Linked DNA regions of Homo sapiens: region 2 is linked to region 1. Evidence: fine-mapped expression QTL. A gene starts in region 1. The other region holds a variant in brackets. All regions are shown on one strand. Distances are between the middles of the regions.

Region 1 (12,301 bases):
TCACTTCAGGAAAAGCAACTGACAGTGTTTGTTGTCAATGAGAACATTCAATCTTTTGAGCAAAAATTAGAATTTTGGAAAATTTTTATCTGCTGCTTGATACCCTCACAATAGCAAAAGACTTTTCTGATGAGATTGGCATTGATATTAATAAATGTGATTTTTTGATGTTGTATAATGAAATGTGTCAACATTTAGAAGATCTGTAAAACTCAGTGACTCAGCAATTTCCAAATGACCAATGGGTGTGTTGACAAAACCCTGCATGGGTAAAACATTCATTTAAAATGCAAGAAAAAACTGTGAGTGTTGCTGTAATAGAGTATAAAAAGGTCATTGCTATGGTTTCAGATTTCATGTCACAACTAAGCTTTAAAAAACTACCACTTGCTGAGTTTTGGTGTCTTATCAAAGAATATCCACGATTATCTGAAAAAGCTACTGAAATGCTCCTTTTCCAATTGCATACACTTCAACCACAAAACATACTGCAGCAGATTGAAAGATATAGCTGGCTTGAGAATACAGCTGTCTTCTATTAAGCCAGACATCTAAAATATTTATAGCCATTAAAAAGAATAAAATCCCATCATTCAAAGTGACATGGATGGAACTAGAAAACATTACGTTATATGAAATAAGTCAGGCACAGAAAGTTAAACACCACATGTTCTCACTCATAGTTAGATGTTAAAAAAAAAGAAAAAGTTAATCTCATAGAAGTGAAAAGCAGAACAGAGGTTACTAGAGGCTGGAGAGGGAAGGGGAGGATAGGGAGAGATTTGTTCAATAACACAAAATTACAGCTAGGTAGGAGGAACAACTTCTACTGTTTTATAGCACTGTAGGATGACCATAGTTAACAATAATATATTATGTAGTTTCAAATAAAGAAGAAAGGATACTGAATGTCCCCAAAACACAGAAATGATAAATGTTTGAGATGAATATGCCAATTACCCTGATCTGATCACTACACATTGTATGTATCAAAATATTACTCTGTACCCCATAAATATGTACCATATGTGTCAATTAAAAATTAATTAGGGCTGGGTGCAGTGGCTCACGCCTGTAATCCCAGCACTTTGGGAGGCTGAGCCAGGCGGGTCACCTGAGTTCAGGAGTTCAAGACCATCCTGGCCAACATTGCGAAATCCTGTCTCTACTAAAAATACAAAAATTACCCAGGCGTGGTGGCACACGCTTATAATCCCAGCTACTCAGGAGGCTGAGGCACAAGAATTGCTTGAAGCTGGGAGGTGGAGGTTGCAGTGAGCTGAGATCACACCACCACACTCCAGCCTGGGCGAGAGAGTGAGACTCCATCTTAAAAAAAAAAAAATTAATTTTTTAAAAAGGATTTATATAAATATAAAGCAGTGCTACTCAGTAATATTTTTGTTTCAAAAAAGTTGCTTTTCATAAATATATGTTTTGTTGTTATATAATTTATTATTTTTATTTTTAAAAGTAGTAATTATATTTAATTTTTCTTAGTTTTCTTTTTTTTTTTTTTTAGAGCTAGGGTCTAGCTCTGTTGCCCAGGCTGGAGTGCAAAGGCACAATCATAGCTCACTGCAGCCTTGAACTCCTAGGCTCAAGTGATCCTCTTGCCTCAGTCTCCCTAGTAGCTAGGACTACAGGTGCATGCCACCAAGCCCAGCTATTTTTAAAAATTTTTTTGTAGAGATGGGGTCTTACTACGTTGCCCAGGCTGGTCTCAAACTCCTGGCCTAAAGTGATCCTCGCACCTTGGCCTCCCAAAATGCTGGATTACAGGCATGAACCACCACACCCAGTCAGTTTTAATTTTTAATATGGAAAATTTCAAAAAATATAACTCATATAAACTGAAGCTCCCTGAGGTCCTCAATAATTTTTAAATGTAAAGCGTTTCTCAGAATATATACCTAGAAGTAGTATTGCCAGGTTATAGATGATACTAAATTGTTTTCCAAAGTAATTGTACCAATTTATAACTTGTCATAATTAATATTTTTACTGCTTTCTCCAGAAGCATTTTATCAGATAGTCTAAATCACATCATAAAATGAGTTTCTTATCTGAAATGTTCTTTTTAGACTTCTAACTCTATGAGTGAGAAAAACAGATACAGACATAGATAAAGATATCACTCATAATCGTAATCTCAGAATCCAGTAATAATCACTGTAATTTTTTTGGTCTATATGCTTCCTGACTTAAAAAGAGGGAGCTCTAGATTTCCAGTTAAATAAACATGTCTCATTGAACACAAATGCTTATCTCTGTTACCTCCCAAAATGATCTAAAATGACAATCTTGGAGTGCAAAAGGAAAAGCCTATAAGGACAAAGAGAACAGGACAGTAAGTAACTGTGCAATAGAGATGTCAATACATTTCTTTAATGAAGGAAAGCAGAGGGCTCACTAGTAATAGAGCTAGGAAAAACTGAACTCTAACCCAGGTGCCTGCAGAGGGAGGCAGGATTGGGGGAAACATCAGATAAAGGGTTCCTGACATCAACCCTTGACATCAGCAAGAAGAAAGCTGATTCTCAACTGAGAACCTTCCAGGCTTGGGATGGGAGGGACCAGGGCCTGGCTCTACCTCCCGGGGTTGTTGTAAGGATTAAATTAGCTAAAACATGCAAAATACTTAAAATAGGGGCTGATACTCAATGGTAGCTGTTATTGTCTGAGGATAAGCTCCAACTTGAAAGCCAGAGACCAAAATAAACAACAGAGACAATCTAGGAAGCAGAAGAAAACAGCAGAAAATTACAACTGGAATCCTCAGAAATATGAAATAAGAGAAGATCCTGAATCCACAACATAAGAGCAAGAGGCTACCAAAAAGGAAAGTCGGGGATCAAACAAAAACTCTTGGAAATTAACATTTTTGTAGCAGAAATGAAAAAATTCAATAGAAGAACCAGGGGATACAGCTCAGGAAAATCTCTTGTAAATTAGAATAAACAAAACCAGGAAATGGAACATGAAGAAAAATTTAAAAACAGGGAAACTGGCTGGGTGCAGCAGCTCATGCCTGTAATCTGAGTACTTTGGGAGGCTGAGGCAGGAGGATCACTTGAAGCCAGGAGTTCAAGACTAGCCTGGCCAACATAGGGAGACCCTGTCTCTATTTGTTAAAAAAAAAAAAAAAAAAAGAGAAACTGATCACAGAGAACGTTTCCCAGAATTGAAGACTTTGTTTCCCAATTGAAAGGGGCCACCGAGTGCTTAGCATAATGAATGAAAAATACTTAAAGGACAGTTTGTTATGAACGTTCAGAACATCAAGGATAAAGGAGAAAAATATCCTAAACAAATTAACAAATTAACAAACAAAATATATGGGAAGTAACACAAGTCAGAATAAATCAGTCTCCTCAAGAGTAGCCACATGAGAAGCTAGATGACAATGAATCAATGCCGTTAAACTTCTGAGGGAAAATAATTTCCAATGTGGAAATCTGTCACTCAAGGATGAAAGAAAATAAAGCCATTTTTAGACAAGCAAGGACTCAAAAATTTAGCTTCCATGAACCCCTTCTGGGGAGTTAGTGGAGAACATACTCCTCCAAAATGAGAGAATAAACCAAGAATGGAAAAACATAAGATCCAGAGAGCAGGGGATTTGGCACAGGAGAAACAAGAAGAGAATCCCCAGAATGTGGTTAGGTCCCTAATCCTAGGACAAGAGCTGTGAAGCAAGGCTAAGCAGAGGAGTTTGGAGCAAAGAGAGGATGAGTCTAAGGAGGGATGCTGCCAAGAAAAAAAAAAAAGACACTGGTAAATGACCTGGTTCACATCTGTAGTACCAGCCACTGAGGGGCTGAAGCGGGAGGATCACTTGAGCCCACCTCTGAAAATAAAAAATAAACAAGGGATGCATAGATCATTAAGCAAATAAAAATAGATAATTTTTTGACTCTAGAAAAAATATTATTCAATAAAGTGAATATAATCTTAGTGTAGTATATACCTCAACTGTAAAAATATTCTAGTTATATTACTATAAACTCTTGCTAGTCATTCAACAAACCAGGAAATTCTGCAGCCTGGCCAAGAGTCCACTGGTAGACACAAAAGAGACAGACAAAGCATAAACTCATGGAAAGAATAGAGAGGGGACTTTGACAGTGTTCAGCCTCAACATTCACTCCCTCCTGGCTCCAACCTTCACCTTCCCAATAAAGAATGTAGAATCCCAAACTGGTATCTCCAGTTCCGTTCTTTTCTGAAATCTTCTAATTGCTCACTGGACAATTCTTCTTGCCTATTGCCACTTGAAGCGTAATCTAGCTCTTTCTCTCTCTCGGTCCCTCTCTTGCGCGCGCGCACACACACACACACACACACACACACACACACACACGCTCCTAACTTATCCTCTTCCTCACCGTTTCCCAAACCAACTCATCACACCTTCTCCACTTTCAACAGTGGCTCAGTGGCACCACTACTTTTCCAGTCTTCCATGTGGCTTTTCCACTCCTCCATTCCCTATAGCTGGTTTGTTTTTAGCTGGCTTCTAAAGGTCCTGCCGTGTCTTCAGCTGTAATCTAGTTCATAGCTTATATGAACGTTATAAACCATACCATGTGACACAAATGTAAAATACCAGTACTACATCAAGATTTCTGAAATAGACTCTGACTTGGTTACTTTTATTAATAATAATCGAATCAGCATTTGTATAGGGTTTTTAAAAAGACATTTAATGTACTTTCCTCTGATTGCTAAAGTATAAACGTTTACTGTAGAAATTTTGGAAAAGCTGGGCGCAATTGCTCACATCTGTAATCCCAGCACTCTGGGAGACTGAGGCAGGAGGATCACTTGAGCCCAGGATTTCCAGATCACCCTGGGAAACACAGTGAGACTCCATCTCTACAAAAAAATTTTAAAAAATTAGCCAGGCATGATGGTGTGTGCCTGTAGTCCCAGATACTTTGGAGGCTGAGGTGGGAGGATTGCTTGAGCCCAGGTTACAGTGAGTTATGATCACACCACTGCACTCCAGCCTGGGTGACAGAGCAAGACCCCATCTATTTTTTAAAAATTAAATAAATAAAAAATAAACATTGTGCAGTAGATCTCTAGAACTTTTTCACCTTACAAACCTAAAATTCTATACCCTTTAAACAATTCCTCTTTTCCCTCTCTCCTAGCCACTGGCAGTCACCATTCTACTTTCTGTTTCTTAGACTTTGATTGCTTTAGATACTTCATATGAATGGAAACATGCAGTATTTGTCTTTTTGGGGCATTGTGCTCACTTTTAAGGCTTTTGATACCTAGTACTAAACTGACCTCCAGAAAGGCTGTTAACGATTTACAGTTTGACTGGAAGCGTGTGTCCATCTGGGCTGAGTTCATTGCTTGCTTAGCATCTATCAGTTGTTTCAATTCTTGCCAGTTTGATAGAGGAACAAATAGTGGACCCAAACAGGGTTTTACTTTGGATAAGGCCATTGTCCTATGAATCCTGGCTGAAATATTTGCTCCAGCACTTAGAAGCTGTGTGACCCGGGACAACTCACTTAACTTTTCAATGCTTCTGTTCCCTTATGTGTAAATGGGGATAATAATATACACGTATACATTATACACACTTATTATGAGGAATTAGTTAATAAATGTGAAGCTGTAAGAACAGTGCCTGGAATATAGTAAGCCCAAATGTAAGGTAGCTATTATCATTTTTGTCAATCCTTGCTAATGTAATACCTGGAAAATTACAGCCAGCTATTTTAATTTACATCTCCTCGGTAATCAGTTGAACGTGAATGTTCTCTGTATTTATACTGGCTATTGGTACTTCTGTCAAGATTTCCTTTTTCAAAGCACTGTGGCAAACGGGATCTCACTTGATCCTCCCAATAAACTCATGAATGAAGAAGGTGGCAATCATCAATCCCCACTTTTCGAATTAAGAAATTGAGCCTCGGAATTCGAATTCTGAGCAATTCCAATTCCAGGATTCGGATCTCACCCTCTAAAACCTAGTAGCTGTTGCAGAAAATATAACGGGAAAAAGCTTTGGTTAGCCGTAACCACCACCCACCCCGGTGTGGCTCCGCCCCTGCCCCGCCCCGGCACCGGCTTGCCCCGCCCCGCCCTCTACGCGGGTTTCCAGCCATCCTCTCTGCGCACGCGCGGCCGCTCCTGCGGGCGGAAGCCTCCTGGCGCTCGGCCCTGCGCCCCTCCCCCCGGCGCGCGGCCCCGCCCAGGACGAGGGGCGGTGGGCAGGCAGCGCTGGGTCCAGTGGTCGGGGGAAGGCGAGGATTACCCTCCCGGAGGCGTTGTCTGCGACTCGGCGGAGGCTCCAACTTCCAGTGGCCCGGTCGGGAAAGGTACAGACTCCCAAGCCTCTTGGTCGGCGGCTCCAGCGACCGCCATTTTCCTCCAGGAGAGGGAAGAGGGCAGGAGGCGGGGGCCGTCCCCTGGGGCCGGGCGGGCCGGGGCGGGGTCGGGGGGCCGGGCGGTGGGGGGCGGGCCCGGCTGGCTATGGGGCCCGGCCCCCTGGCCCCAGGAGCGGCTGCTGCGGCGGAGTTAGGCCGGCCGCAGTGGGAAAACCCTGGGCGCCCTCTGGGTCTCAGCGTCCCATTAGGACGGTTCCGCGCTGGGTGCCGCACGCCGCACAGTGGGCAACGCTTTCACAGGGGTCTTTGCATTTCACCCGCACACAGCAGCTCCTGGAGGGAGGCCAGGAAAACACTTAACCCATTTTGCAGACAGAAAACTAAGGCTCAAAGTGGGGAGGAGACTTGCCCAGGGACACCCAGCGAGGTTGTGGCCTTGGGACTCGGTTCCTACTCCCCCACATCCAGCGCCCTTGCCACCAGACCACTCTGCCTCACCTGGCAAAGGATGGGGCGGAGCTAAAGGATTAGAGGAGTAACTGGCAGGGTATTTTTTGTTTTGTTTTGTTTTGAAGATCTGCCTCTTTCTGTACCACCCAGATCAGAGCCTCCTAAGAAATATCCAGAAGTCAAGCCATGGATCCACCTGCACGTAAAGAAAAAACCAAAGTTAAAGAATCTGTCAGCAGAGTTGAGAAGGCCAAACAGAAATCAGCCCAGCAGGAGCTGAAGCAGAGACAAAGAGCAGAGGTGAGATTAAGGCGGAGGCTCTGTATGCCTGTAGTCTGCTGGAGATGATGCTGGAATAGAGAAACAGCAGAAAGGAGAACTGACAGCGAGCCATACTTGCCTCCAGGCAGGATGGGTGTTCTCCCAGGTTTAGAGGGGACAACACTGAGGTTCAGAATGGTGAGGTGGCAGCCCAGAATCACATGCCAAGTTAGTGTCAGAACCCCAGTCTGGTGCGGAGCTTTTGTGGTAAGAGACCCAAGGGAAGGAAGAAAGGAAAAAAAATGATATGTAAGGGGAAAGAAGGGGTCAGAATGAGAGAGAGCACGCAAGTGTCAGACACCCCCAGTACAGATGTTCTGGATTTGGTGCGGAAAGCAGCTACTCATGCCAGGTAGAGGCCCAAGCTTTAAACTCACCAGTGTGTTCCTTTGTTCTCTCAACGATTACAATCAACTTGAGAATAAAAAGCTTTAAACTTTACCCTGCCAATATTGAGCCACATACAGACATAAGTATTTTATTTTAGTATTTAATGTCAGGGAAAATCTTGCTGGTCTCTTTTTCCCTCTTTGTTTTGTTTATCTGTCTGCTTTGTTCATTTCCTGTCTTACATCCTTTTACTTCTCCATGGACAACTACTTTTTTTTATACTTTTACATTCAAATATATTAATAGATATCCTTGAACAATATACAGTAGTATTTTAAATTTTTACATTAATAAAATTCCTGCATTTTATTTTGCATTTTGCTTACATTGTTTTTTAGAACTATTCATGCCAATATAAGAATTTAGTTTATTCTCATTAATTTTTATAATAGTCTATTTTATGCATCCATTTTACTTAGTATATTTATTCATTCTTACAGAGATGCACATTTAAATTATTTATAGTATTTTTTGCTATTACAAACATTGCTGTAGTGAAAAGCTTTTAGGTGTCTCCTTTGGCACCTGCCTTAGAATTTCTGTAGGTTATTTAACTAGAAAAATTACTGGGTACATTCTCAATTTTACTAGACATTGCCACATTGCTTTTTTTTTTTGAGATGGAGTCTCTTTTTATTTTTTATTTTTTATTATTATACTTTAAGTTCTAGGGTACCTGTGCACAACATGCAGGTTTGTTACATATGTATACATGTGCCATGTTGGTGTGCTGCACCCATTAACTCGTCATTTACATTAGGTATATCTCCTAATGCTTTCCCTCCCCCCTCCCCCCACCCCACAACAGGCCCTGGTGTGTGATGTTCCCCTTCCTGTGTCCAAGTGTTCTCATTGTTCAGTTCCCACCTATGAGTGAGAACATGCGGTGTTTGGTTTTTTGTTCTTACGATAGTTTGCTGAGAATGATGGTTTCCAGCTTCATCCATGTCCCTACAAAGGACATGAACTCATCCCTTTTTATGGCTGCATAGTATTCCATGGTGTATATGTGCCACATTTTCTTAATCCAGTCTATCATTGATGGACACTTGGGTTGGTTCCAAGTCTTTGCTATTGTGAATAGTGCCATAATAAACATACGTGTGCATGTGTCTTTATAGCAGCATGGTTTATAATCCTTTGGGTATATACCCAGTAATGGGATGGCTGGGTCAAATGGTATTTCTAGTTCTAGATCCTTGAGGAATCACCACATTGTCTTCCATAATGGTTGAACTAGTTTACAGTCCCACCAACAGTGTAAAAGTGTTCCTATTTCTCCACATCCTCTCCAGCACCTGTTGTTTCCTGACTTTTTAATGATCGCCATTCTAACTGGTGTGAGATGGTATCTCATTGTGGTTTTGATTTGCATTTCTCTGATGGTGAGTCTCTTTTTTTTTTGAGACGGAGTCTTGCTCTGTCACCCAGGCTGGAGTGCAGTGGCGTGATCTCTGCTCACTGCAACCTCTGCCTCCCGGGTGCAAGCAATTCTCCTGCCTCGGCCTCCAGAGTAGCTGGGATTACAGGCGTGCACCACTGCCTTGGCCTCCCAAAGTGCTGGGATTATAGGTGTGAGCCACTGCACCCGGCCGATATTGTCAACTTTTAATTTTTGTTAACCTGATTCATTCATTAAATATTGGCCAGGCACAGTGGCTCACACCTGTAATCCCAGCACTTTGGGAGTCCGAGGCAGGCGGATCATGAGATCAAGAGATTGAGACCATCCTGGCCAACATGGTGAAACCCTGTCTCTACTAAAAAAAAAATTAGCTGGGCGTGGTGGTGCTCCCTGTAGTCCCAGCTACTCGGGAGGCTGAGGCAGGAGAATTGCTTGAACCCAGGAGACGGAGGTTGCCGAGATTGTGCCACTGCACTCTAGCCTGGGCGACAGAGCTAGACTCTGTCTCAAAAACAAAAAAAAAAGAAAAAGAACTGCTAGTATGTGCCAGGCACTGTTCGAGGAATTTGAGTCACATGATGACAAAGCAGAAAAGAATCCCTGCCTTCATGGATCTTGCATTCCAGCAAGGGGAGGCAGTAAACATAATAAGTAAACTTACTAGTGCATTTGAAGTTAATCTGTAAACTGAAATCTACCTTTGGGTTAAGGCAGACCCCCTGAGAGCTGTGGTCCTTTACCTTCCCATTCCCACCTGGATCCGGGTCCTCAGATGATATGACTGCATTGTGCTTTGGTGAACAATATGAGGGTTGCTATAAGAAACAGCCCTGAAGCAGGAGAACAGAAGCTACAGATAAGAAAACCATTGATCAGAGAAATGGTGATATAGCCAAGGGAGCTCTCACTGGAGGAACAGAGCTATCTATACTTCCGTGTACAACAAATGCTCTGGGAAATGGAGAACCAGTTGCCAGCCCATATGTGGTTACCTCACACCAATCAAAAGTGACTGTGGAGAGCACCCCCAATTTGGAAAACCAAATGAAAATGGAGTATCTCTGTTCAGAATGAAAATTTTGAAGAAATTATAAATTTACCCATTGGATCGAAACCATCCAGATTAGATGTCACTAACAGTAAGAGCCCAGAAGTTCCTTTGAATCCAGTTTTGGCCTTTGATGATGAAGGAACGCTTGGGCCCCTGGCTCAGGTAGATGGTGTTCAAACACAACAGACTGCAGAAGTTAAATGCGTATTTTTTCTGAAGAACCAACGTCAAAATTTAACGAGAATTTCTATAATTAATGGAATTCCTTTCATGCTATAAAAGAGCATCCCCTCTTCCAGTTTTCTAAAGATTTCTTGACCATCATTTTGAAAAGATTTATTTAAACTAGCTAAAGACAACAGACAGGATAGCTTTCCTAATAATTTTCATCAGTAGAAAAAAAATACTCCTCATTCTTCAGTACTTTCAAATGGCTTTTTCCAGTGTGCTCCTTCTTAGCAAATTAGTATTTTTCTGCGTTATTTAAAAGACAAGAGGATTTGGCTATAAAATGATTGACTAGGATTGACTAGGCATGATTTTTTTTCACATAGTTTGGTCTTAAAGCTTAACAGCTTAAAATTGGCAAAAAAAACTTGTGCCTTTTACCATGTAATACTTGAAAAGTAAGTACCTCTTTGCTACAAGTAGAATGAATAGGGAAAAGTTTAAGCCTGTTTTTTTAAAAATATTATTTTAAAGAGCTCTATTTGTAGAGGCAAATTATAGGCAGATTACCAGTTTCTTATAAATACAAACTTGTACATGGACATTCTGCAAACCCAGCTGTCATATTCTTGCAACTACTTTTGCAAAAGCATACTAAAAGGTTTTAAAATGTGAAAAAACATTATTTTTTCAGAGCAAGAAAATAATTTACTGTTGTCTTCAATAATGTGTAAAGTTTTTCCAGATAAACTAATCAAATAAATTAGAACAATGTGACAACATTGCAAATTTGTCATTAGATGCATTCCTTCTAACGTTACCAGGGGAGGATGTTACTGATGATTCAAGGCTGTTTCTGAAGTCTGTGTGTTGCTACTGTCCCCAGTGATGGTGGGACTTACCTCTGTCCTACTTGATCACAAATTATGTTAGGGGGAAATAAAGATTTAATATTTCATTAAATAAAAAAGAAATTTGGTTTTGCTCATTTAAGAGCAACAAGAAAATGGTGGTGTGTTGACTGTGTTTGGCCGCAGGGCACAGACCTTTATGGAAGTCCTCGCTCTGCATGGCATCCACCAGCTTTTCACCTTTCATTCTTATTCTTCACTTTTGCTGCTGAGCCTAGCTGTACAAATTTGCACTTTCATTTGCTAATGTAAATTCAATTTATTTTACCATTTTAGAGACTACTAATGATTAAATGTAAGAGAGGACACATGTTTTTATGTGGAGTGTTAAAAAAGATAAATTTATACCACTGTAATGTGCTGGATTTATTAAAAGAGATTGGTTAAACTGCTCGGTTGAATGAGAGACTTCCTCTATTGTACTCTTTTTTTTTTTTTTAAATCCAAGGATATTGTCTTTAGTAACAGCTTGTAACTTGTTAAAACATTAATTTGGGGTTTTTCCCTATTCTTAATTGTCTATGTACACATAGTAATTATGTTAAAATCCGTTTTTAAAAAAAACAGCCCTATGAAACTGTCCTCTGTGCATATTGTAAGGATAGATGTTGAGGACATTGTTCATGCCCTTATTGACACCCTTCTGTAAAGTTCTATAGGTTAAATTTATTTGTCTGACTTCAAATCTCAGCTCCTCCATAAATCCCAGTTCTTCCATGTGACGTTGGACAAGATACTTAACCTCTCTGAACCCCCAGTTCATCAGTTCCTCCTTGGTAAAATGAGGATAACATCTACCTCAGAAGACCATTAAAAGGAATAGAAATACCACGTGTAAAGCCCATAGCGCAGTACTTGGCAGAGGAAGCATTTGATAACTAGCAGTGATTATGATCAGGAATAATCTTGTGTTTCCAAGCAGGCAGCCTGCTCTTATTGTGTGGACCCTAAATTGAACAACTGCTGAGTTCCTGTTGACCTGCTGAAATGCAACGTTGCTGCACTCAAGCAGCAGCTGGCCCCGTGCAGCTCTTGAGATGTGCCAGGACCGAGCCAAGCCTACACATGCATAGCCACATGTAGTCCTCACACCAGGGCTCCAAAGCAGGAGTTATTGTGACTCCCATTTAACCTTGGTTAATCCGATATGTAAAATATATGGCCTTGTGAGGTAGGCAGTATTATCCTCACTTCAAAGGGATGTGAGTAGAGTCCTGTAGTTAAAGAGGGGCAGGCCTGTGGTCTAAACATC
Region 2 (12,301 bases), 20 kb before region 1:
CATTAGCTCTGGATATCACCAAACTATGTTGTAAACAGCATCAAGAAAATAGAAAAGGATGGTATGTTTTACTCATCAGCCTTTCCCAATTCATTCCTGAAGAAAGAGGGAAAGAGTGAGTGGTCTAAAACATGCTTGCTTTTAGAGAGCTGACTTTGGGGGGCAGAGGCCAGAACTGAGAGAGAGAAAGGCAGTCCTCAATGGGATAAGTAAGAAGTCAGGGACTGGGGGCCATAACTTCTTGACTAAAGCTTGAGGGCAGGATGAGGCAGAGAAAGTGTCTTCTAAATAACCCCTGGAGTAGCGAACTCTTTTCCCTGAACCTGTGCTGTATCTTGGTAACACATATTCAACATCTCCACCTGCACCTAAACTGATTGTTTGGTTTCCAGGAATCCTCCCTCCAGGTCACTGGGAGCTTCAATTCCTTAGAAGAAAGGTAAGCTTCAGAACTGAGGCCTGGGAGAAAAGTGGTACAAATAGAAACCACAAAAGGGTCTGGATTTGGGTTAAGGTGAAGAGACGTTCCATAATCATGGGGTTGGGCCAGGCGACTGAAGTCCAGGGTGCTGGGCTGGATGGTGATGGGAGCAGGTAATGTGGCATATCCCTAAAAAGAAGGAGCCTTGAGCTCCTGAAGGGCTGGGCCAAGGTCAGGGGGCAAGGACAGGATTATATCCTTCAGCTCTGGGGCCTTCGGGGGTAGTAAAGAAGAGTTCACCTTGAGGGACACATCTCCATTAGCATGGCCTTTCCCTTCTGGCCTGGGGACAATTGATTCCTCTGATTTGTGTAGTTCTGAACAAATGACTAGAGGTGCTGTGTTTTTTCCTCCATCATGAAGGCAAGGTTCAAAGAAAGGGCGAAGGGGGCCAGAGAAATTGTGGGTGAAAGTAAAGATGTGGGACTTGTTGGTCACATTGTAGAAAGAGATGACTCCTGCTTCATAGTCCAGGAAAATCCCCACACACCGTGGAGGCTCTTTAAGGCGGAAGGAGGTCTGCGGGGATGTGAGAGCTTCATACTCATTCCCACGACTCTGTCGCAGAAGCCAGTGTCCATTGGCAGGTGAGGCAGTAACCTTCCCCTTCCTGCTCACTGACTCACTACATACTCCAAGAATCCATTTGGTCTTGTCTCCCACATACACCTCCCAGTAGTGGCAGCCAGTCGTGAAGTACTCAGAGCCTAGGATGCTGACAACGAAATCAAATCTCTGGGGGTTGTCAGGTACAGGCTGCCGTCTGTCTCCAAGCCTTACACATCTTTGGTCCTCAGAAAGGATGAGTTTGGGATGTGCTGTGTCTGGGTCCAGGGTCACTGCCACTGCAAAGAGACACAGACAGGTGAGGCTTGGAAGTATAGGTCTTAAGGGATTTGGGGATGGCTTTGGAGGGAAAAAGAATCTTAGGTCTGCCATCACTGTCATTAGCCCATTTTAGTTCATGGATTCCCGCCCCCACCATGTGTACTGGAACCAAAGAATATTCTCTTTCAAAGAATAGGTCTCCTGGTCGATTACTAAGTAATAGAAGAAAAAGTTCTTCTTCATCTGTCTGTGAAACTGCTTTAATCCTCAGGAAATAACTACCTGTTATGATTTAAGTGTGTCCCTCAAAAGTTCACGTGTTGGAACCTTAATCCCTCATTGCTGCAGTGTTCAGAGGTAGGGCTTAGTGGGAAGTGTTTGGGTCCTTCACAAAGAGATGAATGCAGTTTTCACAACACTGGGTTTATTTCTCTGGAGAGCAGGTTATGATAAAGCAGGTCAGGGCACTTTGTCTCCTCTCTGCTTTTGGAGGCACTCACTTGCCCTTCTGTTCTTCCAGAAGCAACTATCACCATACTATGAAGTAGCACAAGCCCTTCACCAGATACAGTCGCCCAATCTTGGACCATCCAGCCCCAAGAACCATGAGCTAAATAAACCTTTTTCCTTGATAAATTACCCAGTCTCGGGTATTCTGTTATAGCAACAGAAAACAGAGTAAGACACCACATTTGTCTTTGATGTTCCAAAATAATCAAATGTGTGATGATAAATACAGGGTTTGTTGTTAGATCCTGTAGCCACATAGCATGTTTGAATCCCAGCTCTGCCACATGCTAGTTATGTGACCTTGGGCTTGTTACTCATCTCTGAACCTTAGTTTCCTCATCTGTAAAATGGAAATAGTAACAGAACCTGTGTTGTAGAGCTATTGTGCAGACTTGATGAACTAATGATATAGTGCCTCATTCCTACAGTGAGTGCATGATATTCATTCTGTCACCTAAAATTATTACTTATAATTATCTGCTTTATTTTATTTTATTTGAGGAAGGGTCTCACTATGTTTCCCAGGATGGAATGCAGTAGGTATTCATGGGCATGCAGTCATAACACACTACAGCCTTGAATTCCTGGCCTCAGGTGAACCTCCCACTGCAGCCTCCCAAGTACGTAGGACGAAATTATTATTTTTAAATGTTAATATAGAGAGAAGGATTCTTCCCTAAAATTGTGGATTATGAGTGTCACAGTGAGTCTCCTTCCTTCCCCAAATACAGGAAACAGCTTCTTCTTAGAGAGTTAAGTCTATAAACCATACACAGTTGAGATGGTGGCAATAAGCCAGACTGTAAATGTGAGACAGAAGGGTTTGTAAGTTCCCAGAATGCCAGCCAAGGTGACCTGGAGTTCTCTCGAGTGGCCAACTCATAATTTGTTGTACTCTGCCTGAAGGAAGATGGTGTGAACAGGAGGAGGATAAAAGCCTAGAAAATTGATAAGGATCCCAAAGCAGTGAAAAAAACAGGTCCCATTTGAACAGCAGCAAAAAATGCAAACTATTTAGGAATACATTGAAAGAGAGGTGCAAATCTTTTCATAATGTATATTGTTGGGGCATCTGCTCAACCCATTCCCTTCTTCTCTGAGAATCTCAATCACCACCCCTAAGCAAATTGGTCTGCAGAGAAAGAAGAAAAAGCAAATGTGTAGAAAGAGGCGGAAGCAGTGGCTATTTATCTGGTTGTGGGATAGGAAGGACTTCCCAAACCTGAAAGCATGGAAGAGACTACACAGAAAAAGATGAATGAATTTGACTACGTAAAAATAAAACACTTATGCATCAGAAAAATACTATAAGGAAGTACAAATGAAAAGTAATGGTGACAAATATGACAAAGAGCTAATATACTTTATCTAGAAAGAGTCTTCACAAATCAAAAAAAAGCCCAAATAGAACAGGAACAGACAAGTCACACAAAGAAGAAATACAAATAACTGATAAACATAGGAAAAATCTCAAAAACCACAGAAAACCCTTAAGAAGACCAAACCTAATATTATCAGTGCTCTAAAAGAGGGGATACTTTCTAAATCTAAATATGACCTCAAGATCGATCACAAAGATTTTTTTAATTTGATAGTCAGATATACAGATTTGATTTAAAAATTTTTAAATTACCTGCATTCCAGAGGAATGGAACAAAATCTAAGGTTACAAAGCCATAAGGAGGAAGTGCTCTGAGATATGGACCTATTTGATTGGTATAACTTACCAAAATGCAACCGGGCTCTTCTCCAGCCTGAAAAATGAGAAAAGGGGATCATTAAAGTACCAGAGACATCAAGAACTCCTGTAGGGTGGTGGTCAAATGTGGAGAAAGTGCATCTCACCTGAGTTTGCTGCAGCTCTTTTCAACTCTATGAAAGAAGAAACAAGGGGAATGAGCTATCACTGCAAATATTAGGGCAACAGGAGATAAGTTGGTACGGAAGTTACAAGAACATGGGAAACTTACTCAGTTCACTCCGGAGTTTCTCTAAAGAATGAAAACAATTTGGCAAATCAGAAGGAGGGCCTCTATGTAGAGGCCCTCCCATAATGCTACAGTCCCATCCCAACCATGAGCAGACAGATACTCAATAGCTATACCCTGGAACTTCCCCAGAAGAGTTTGCAAGAGCAGTAGATCCCAGCTGTGGACCATGGGAGTATCCCCAGAGATACTGCAGAGGATCAGCAAATTCCTATGTGAGCCAAACCTTATCTGCAGGCTAAATAAATAACACATCTCACACCTACAGGTAATGACAACATAAATTATGTAGATGTTGTAGGAAATATTACTTCATTTAAAACTATCACTGAGTATTGGACTTTGTGATCATGTATATTTTCTCAATGTAATAATTAATGCATAGATATGTCACATGTCTACAGATTTATTTTTATTTTTATTTTGAGATGGAGTTTCGCTCTTTTTGCCCAGGCTGGAGTACAATAGTGCAATCTCGGCTCACTGCAACCTCCGCCTCCCAGGTTCAAGCGATTCTCCTGCCCCAGCCTCCCAAGTAACTGGGATTACAGGCGTGCACCACCACACCCAGCTAATTTTGTATTTTTAATAGAGACGGGGTTTCACCATGTTGTCAGGCTGGTCACAAACTCCTGTCCTCAAGTGATCCACCTGCCTTGGCCTCCCAAAGTGCTGGGATTATAGGCATGAGCCACTGCACCTGGCCAGATTTTTTTTTAATGTTAAAAAGAGGTCCTCACACATGAAATGATGGAGAAGTACTGCTCCAGCATATTCAGTTTAATAAGGATCCTGTCCTCCTGGACCCCATCTAAGGAAATGTCATGCCTGGGTGATAAAAGGGACTTCCAGATGGCTTCACCTATGGGAGATGCATCTATCTCTTCCTGGTGAAACGTTTTTCATTTAAAGACTAAATAATAGTTGTGCAGGAAAGAGGAGCAGAGAATACTTGAGAAAAGAGGCCTTTGAGAGCCAAGAAAGCCCCAGTCCCCATGGCTTGAATTACCAGTACCCCCTCCCTTCTGCCCCAGGAAGTGAAACTGAGATGCTCATCCCAAAGCAAAAGTGTCAGCAGAAGGAGCTTGTGCCATGGATGAGGAGCAAAACTTACTGACAGCTTTATGGAGTTTTCCTAAAAACCAGAAAGAGAGAGAAGAGTGAGTGATCAGATCCTGCCTCTTTTTCCTCAGAGCTGTGGCAGCCTCATCACTCCAACCCACAAGATTAAAATGATGGTGACGCTTCTATGTCCCTAGTCCAGCTCCGTGTCCCAGAGTTCAGACCCAGAAATCTGATGGTGCTGGTGACACTGTCCCAGTGACCCAGCCTGCCCGG[G/T]ACTTTGGTTCCTCCTTCCCCTTCCCCTCCTTTTCATCTGTCTGGTTTCATTTCTGCTGTCGGCATGAGTGTTTCTATATGTTTGTAACTGCGGTACATGAGTGTATGCACTGCTGTCCTTTTATAGCCCACCGTTTATGGTATCTAAGGTGTAAAACTAGCTAAAGGCCTAGCATGAACTTGTTAATATGGCTGTATTATTCTCTACAGTAACTCCCCTGAGGTTATAAATTTCACAAATTGGAGGTCCCAGAAGATTTGGGGACATGTGTATGAGACATGTGTTTCTGGGGAGTACTTGCAGCTTCTCTGGAGGGCCATGTGGCCCACATTTCCCCCTACCCAGCATTGGCCCTGCTAGACAATTGAAGTTACACATCCTGAGTCCACCACCAGTCCCTGTGCTAAGGGCCGGGCATGTGTTAGGCATTAGGCATTGGAGCAATGCAGCCGAATACGACACGGCTCCTAAGGAGCTTATGGTTTATTGTTACCATCTCCACTACTAACAGCTTCCATTTACTGTCTGCTGTGCTTATACTGAAGTAGGCACTGAATCCTCTCAATAATGTGAGATGCCTAGAATTATTATTGCCATTTTATAGGGGGGTGGTCTGAGGCTCAAAGGGACACAAAATTTGCCCAAGGTCTTCCAGCTAGTAAGTGACCAAGGAGGCAGGATTCAATCTAAGTCTGTCTGACTCCTGAGTTAGAGGCCCTCTCCCTTACCCCACACTGTTCCCTCTTCACTTGAGCAGAACAGCCAGTGTCTGCCAGATACACGCCACGCTTGCACCAGCTTGGAGGAAATGTAAGGAGGGAAGAGAGGAGACGCTGACATCATTGAATCTGGAGTCATCTGAGCCAGTGACTTGTCTTCCCAGATAGACTTCAACAAGGTGTCCAACTCAGTGGCCCACAGTAAATGTCAAATTAATGAAGACAAAATGGCAATAAGGAAAAGGAGTTCCAGGCACTGTGACAGATTTTTTTTTAAGGTTGCCTGTTTTAACACTGAAAACAATCAGGTAAGGGGAAGTTATCTGCATTTTGCTGATGAGGAAACCAAAACCTAAGTGGCAGACCAATGATCTGAGGTGTCACTGACCCCAGAGCCTGCGACCCTTCCTTTGTATCATACCACCTCTCTCTATGCAAAGGTTGTGTGGATTCTTGAAATTCCCATATATCCCATATGACCACATTAATATACTTTTCAATAATATGTAGACTTCTTTTTAAAATGGTTGGCGGAAAGGCTAATGAAGGGAGTTTATGGTAATCTAGGCCTGTGAATTTTGACCTGGGCACCTCCTTACCCACTGCCACAAGCTCCACAGCCCCTTAACATTGCACACTAAATTCCAGTAATATCAATGGAGGATATATGTGTGCATGTGTGTACAGTATTATAAAAATAGACTTATAATAATGACTGTCAACATTTACATAGAAAAATAAAGAATGTGTTTTTTGTTCCCTACCCCTTACTCTTTTATATCATTACCTTTTTCTTTAGCATGGTCTGAAAGAAGATTGTCTAGAGGAAGAAAGGAAAAGATAATGAGATTTTTTGCCACTGCCTTGAGGATCCCTGATTCCTATTGATTTTACCTGCCCTTGGACCTGTCCACCTCTATCTTCACCTCCACCTCCCTGATCCGGTCTCTAATCAACTCTCACCTGGACAACAGAAATGGCAGCCCAAATTGTCTCCCACATCCTGTCTTAATCCCTCTGGTCTCTACTAAACTCTGCAGCCTGAGAGAATTGTTTAGTTTTTTTTTTTTTTTTAAATCTGCCACCCTGGCTGGATTGCAGTGGCATGATCTTGACTCACTGCAGATTTTTTTTAAAAATCTGCCACCCTGGCTGGATTGCAGTGGCACGATCTTGACTCACTGCAACCTCTGTCTCCGGGGTTCAAGCAATTCTCCTGTCTGTCTCCTGAGTAGCTGGGATTACAGGCACGCACCACCATGCTCCACTAATTTTTGTATTTTTAGTAGAGACAGGGTTTCGCCATGTTAATCAGGCTGGGCTTGAACTCCCGACCTCAGGTGATCCACCCTCTTCAGCCTCCCAAAGTGCTAGGATTACAGGCGTGAGCCACCATGCCCGGCCAAGTTTTTCAAAGCACAATTACATCTGATATCCCCATTCCTTGCTTTACCACTGCTCTTACGAGAATGACTAAAATCCTGAATGTGACCCACCAGGCCTCAGGAGGCTCAGCTCCGCCTCACTCCCCAGCCTCACCCCTGCCACTTTTCCCCTCACTCCTGCACCTCCTCAACTCCCCAGTGAGTGCTGCTTTCCCCGACCATGCTTCTCTCTGAAGCTGTTCTTTCTGCGGTGGCTGGTTTTCCATTCCCTCTTCACTCATGACTTCTAGTCCTTCAGGACAAACTTCATACCCTCAACCCTCAAGCTTGGTTGGTTCATTCTGGTCATAGCCTTCACAGAACCAGGAGCTTTCTTGTGTAGCTTTTGTACACATTTATTTGTGTTAACTATTTAATTCATCTCATTTCCCTGACTACACTGAAAGTTCCAGGAGGGCAAAAACTGTGTCTGCTTTTACTCACTATTGCATCCCCAGAATCTAGTATTGTCCAGGGCATTTTGTAGATAATTATCAAGTATTTGTTGAACAAATAAAAGCTTCCCCCATGTTCAAGCTACTCGACTCCCATAGAATAAGATCAAGCAATGAGCTCACAGGCAAAAATCATTAAACATACAGGAAGGCAAAGCTATTACAAGTAAGAGGCAGTAAAAACTGGAAGCAACGGATTTAGACATTGCCACCATCACCAAGGATAGCAGATAATGGAATTTTCAGGAACAGAATCCAGGTTAGTGGGTATGGGGGGCACAGAAATTAACAACAAAAGAAACATCTCCCCTGCCCCCCAGCCAAGAACACTTACCCACCTCCGTCACATGTTCATAGAGAAGCTTTTCTAAAAGGGAGAGAGAAATGCCAGCTCAGCTTAGGAAGGGCTTTTTCTAACAGGCACAAGTGTCCCAAGATGCCCCCAGCTGCCTGAGTAGGACTGACTCCTTGTCACTACAGGTAAGCGGGCATTTGAAAGGATTAGAGAGTCTTCAAACCATCAGATAAGGGCAGGAGTGTTGGATTACATGACTGTGACTTTCAAAGTCCCTTGCAGCCCTGAGATCCTGTGAAATGTGACCATTTTTTATGAGAGTCTTATCCAATGGATATAATTGGATTTCTTTATTAAAGGGCTGTAATTCATTTCTTAGTTAATTAGAAGGCTGGCATAGTCGGTTATTTTCTTATTTTTCAAAGGATGAGAATTTACAGCTCTGCCCAGGGGCCTTTCTGCAGTTTATTGAACTCCCTTTGCAATGTGTGTCCCCAGGGCATGGCTCTACCAGTTTTCTCCCAGCCAACTTGCAGTGTCCCCAACCTATGGAGAAGTGTCAGGTCTACATCTACTTCCGTCTGGCCCTTTCCCAGAGCAGTCATAGTCCCACTTCCCACCAGCCTGAGCTCCCTTACCATTTAATTACCTTTTGCTCTTCTTTGCTTCCAGATAAGGCAAAGGCACACCATGATGAGAAGTACCAGGACAGGCAGGATCACAGCCAGAGCCACTGCTGAGGGGGAGAGACTCCCCACAGATGGGGCTGAAACAGAAACCACCAACGACTGACCTCAGGGAGATGTCTAAGAGCTTCTGGCATGCCTCAGATGGCAGGCGGCTCCAGCACATCCCAACACTCTCCATCACCTCTAGGGAGAGAGCTCCGGCCAAGAGGCTCTTTGCTTCTCTGATAACTCAAGCCCTGGATAGCATTAAAGATAACTGAGGCTGGGAACGGTGGCTCACGCCTGTAATACCAGCACTTTGGGAGGCAGAGGCAGGAGGATCATCTGAGATCAGGAGTTCAAGACCAGCTGGCCAATGTGGGGAAACTCCGTGTCTACTAAAAATACAAAAATTAGCCAGGTGTGGTGGCGGGCACCTGTAATCCCAGCTCTTCAGGAGGCTGAGGCAGGAGAATCCCTTGAACCCGGGAGGCAGAGGTTGCAGTGAGCCAAGGTCACACCATTGTACTCCAGCCTGGGTGACAAGAGTGAAACTCCATCTCAAAAACAAACAAACAAACAAACAAACAAAAACTGAGATGTTCCTCTCTCGGGAATGGTTTGGATGGTCCTGCCTCAAGATGATGACTTAAACAAACTTCTTGACCACAATCTCATCCTGCCCTATAATTCAATGGAAAAATAAGCCCGGGACTTCAGAGGACTGAAGGCACTCTCCTCACTACACACCTCCAGTCTTCCCAGGAGCACCTGCCTGTTTACCCCTGTCAATCCTCACTCTGCTCTAGAAGAGCAGGCAGCAACCTCTTTGCCCTGAGCACTGTCCACGGGGGCAAAGCAATTTCTATGATGCCGCAGCAGTAGGCCTGAAGCCTAGGCAGGAGAGAAAGGGGAAAAGAAAGAGGAAATAGAGGAGAGGAAACGAGCAGAAGCGGGCTATGGGTAGAAGTAGTTAAGAGCCTAAGCTGGGAGTATGTCCTTGCTCAATGCTGTGTGACCCAAAGCAGGAGACTGAGCACCTCCCAGCCCATTGTCCCTCATCTGTAAAATGTGTGCATGACAGGACTCCTTATCTCTTTGAGGTTTGGAGAGATTTAAAGAGGTCAGTCATATAAAGCATTCAGTCTCCTAAGTAGCCGGGATTACAGGCACATGCCACCATGCCTGGCTAGTTTTTGTATTTTTTTGGTAGAGACAAGGTTTTGCCATGTTGGCCAGGCTGGTCTCCAGTTCGTTTCAAGGATCATTAAAAGGTTCAGGCCAGGTGTGGTGACTCACACCTGTAATCCTAGCACTTTGGGAGGCTGAAGCAGGAGTATCACTACAGCTCAGGAGTTTCAGACCAGCCTGGGCAGCATGGTGAGAGCTCATCTTTATTATAAATAAAAAAGAAAAAATAAGTAAAAGGTTTGAACCCTTGGACCCATTAATTCTACTGCCAGAAGTACATTATTAAAAAAAAAATCAAAATCACTTTCCAAAATACGTTCAAAGATGTTCATTGCACCCTTCATTATAATATGAGGAAAATTTGGAAAGCATCCAGATGCCCAGAAACAGGGCTTTGATTAATTTTATTATTCTATAGCCACATGGCAAAATACTATGCAGCCCTTAAAATCATATTACTTAGGGACATGGGCAAAGAAAACAAATGCTCATGATATCATAAGTGGAAAAATATCCTGGGCACAAGAATACACATGTGTAAACATACATGCTCAGAGATACATATATACAAAAAAGTCTTGCAAGAAAGATACAAAAATGTTAGCAGCAGTTCTCTCTAATTTAAGCTATTATAGGCCATTTTTCAGTTTCCTTTAAATATTTTGGATTTTTTTCAAATTTTCTACAATATATATGCTTTATTCTTAGAATTTAAAAAAATTGAAAATTCCTCAAAAAGTTCCTGCTAGGGTAGGAATTTCCTCAGGAACCACCAGCGCCTTCAAACCTGTTTCCACCCCAGCTTTTACTTGTTATGACCACAGCTGTGGTCTTCTCTTGGCCAAGGGCCATGTTGTGGATGGTTCAGGACACATTCCCCAGTGTGCTGTCCCTGACTCTGCTAGACACTGCTATTTGGAAGAGCCCAGCTTTTTCCAGAGAGTGGGCCTCTGACAGGGATGGAAGTACCCTGCCTTGAGGTTCTCTCCACTTGGCCCAGGGCTCTGGGAACCATCCCACCTATCTGCACACCAGCAGGGCCTCTGCCAGGGTATGGTCCTGGCCATGGCCCTCTTCCCCCATAGCCTCCTGTGATGAACAGGGGCAGCTGTTAATGGAACTTGTCCTCTCTCCACTCTCTCCCCACGCTCCTCCTAATGGGATAAGCCAGTCTCTAGCTTTATTCTCAGACATTTAAAAATTCACCCATAGCAATAACTGTATCACATGATTCAGATTCCTGTGGGCACCTCGGTCCCCTTTTAAAAATTACTTTTCAGCTGGGCATGGTGGCTCATGCCTGTAATTCCAGCACTTTGGGAGGCTGAGGTGGGAGGATCACCTGAGGTCGGGAGATTGAGATCAGCCTGACCAACATGAAGAAACCCCGTCTCTACTAAAAATACAAAAATTAGCCGGGCGTGGTGGCACATGCCTGTAATCCAGCTACTCGGGAGGCTGAGGCAGGAGAATCACTTGAACCTGGGAGGCGGAGGTTGTGGTGAGCCCAGATAGCATCATTGCACTCCAGCCTGGGCAACAAGAGTGAAACTCCATCTCCAAAAAAAAGAAAAAAGAAAAAAAAATTAGTTGGCCATGGTGGCGGGCACCAGTAATCCCAGCTAACTCAGGAGGCTGAGGCAGGAGAATCACCTGAACCCAGGAGGCGAAGTTGCAGTGAGCCAAGATTGCACCAATGCACTCCAGCCTGGGCAACAAGAGCAACACTCCATCTCAAAAAAAAAAAAAAAAAAAAAAAAAAAAATTAATTTTCACCCCAAAGGACTCCAATTTGGAAAGTCTGTCTACCAACTACTGAGTGTTTTAAAGTAATTGATTCATCCCCACTTCATGGTGTGTGACTTCAAATTATGACCAAAAGATAATCAGCATGTGACCATGTGAAGCCAGTGTCATTCAAGCAAATGCAAAGACATGGTTTGGGTTGGGTTGAGTTGGGTTTGGTTTGGTAGACTGATTTTTTAAAATATTAGTAGACTGATTTTTGTGGACTGATTTTCAGTAAACTGTTTTTTTTAAATATTGAAGCTAGTTTGAGAACACTCTCAACTGGGTGCAGTGGCTCACACCTGTAATGCCAATACTTTGGGAGGCCAAGCGGGGAGGATTGCTGGATTGGAAACCAGTCTAGGAAACATAGGGAGACCCTGTCTCTACTAAAAGTAAAAAAAAAAATTAACCAGACATGGTAGTGTATGTGTAGTCCCAGCTACTTGGGAGGCTGAGGTGGCAGGATTACTTGAGCCCAGGTGGTCAAGGCTACAGTGAGCTATGATTGCACTACTGCACTCCAGCCTGGGCAACAGAGCAAGGCCCTATCTCAAAACAAAAAAAAAAAAAAAAAAAAAGAGAAAAAAAAAAAAAAAAACACTATCTCTCCCT

Alleles and levels. Alleles are on the strand shown, and positions count from the first base shown. SD is a standard deviation of normalised expression in the study named.
As copies of G replace T in region 2, the expression in thyroid of the gene that starts at base 6,412 in region 1 goes up (moderate effect, 0.40 SD a copy in GTEx).

Evidence for each region. PIP is the estimated chance that this variant, and not a neighbour inherited with it, causes the effect. A credible set is the group of variants that fine-mapping cannot tell apart.
Region 2: its variant is the best candidate, but not a certain one, in a credible set for the expression of ERMAP in thyroid (GTEx, PIP 0.53).

The regions. Positions count from the first base shown.
Region 1 is chr1:42,811,233-42,823,533 of GRCh38, reverse strand. It overlaps ERMAP (erythroblast membrane associated protein (Scianna blood group)), which reads right to left and starts at 6,412. Exons shown (of 12, transcript NM_001017922.2): 1 at 6,281-6,412. SVBP (small vasohibin binding protein) reads left to right here and starts at 6,137. Exons shown (of 3, transcript NM_199342.4): 1 at 6,137-6,344; 2 at 6,954-7,103. The coding sequence starts at 6,990. RefSeq lists silencers at 5,994-6,283, 6,434-6,633, 7,194-7,263.
Region 2 is chr1:42,831,542-42,843,842 of GRCh38, reverse strand. It overlaps ERMAP (erythroblast membrane associated protein (Scianna blood group)), which reads right to left. Exons shown (of 12, transcript NM_001017922.2): 5 at 8,689-8,805; 6 at 8,079-8,111; 7 at 6,653-6,685; 8 at 4,922-4,942; 9 at 3,790-3,810; 10 at 3,665-3,691; 11 at 3,547-3,573; 12 at 1-1,326. The coding sequence ends at 611. It overlaps ZNF691-DT (ZNF691 divergent transcript), which reads left to right. Exons shown (of 5, transcript NR_186083.1): 3 at 393-439; 4 at 927-1,068; 5 at 1,830-1,948. LOC124904163 (a long non-coding RNA gene) reads left to right here and starts at 6,184. Exons shown (of 2, transcript XR_007066035.1): 1 at 6,184-8,003; 2 at 8,712-11,943. The variant G/T (reference allele first, on the strand shown) is at 5,146.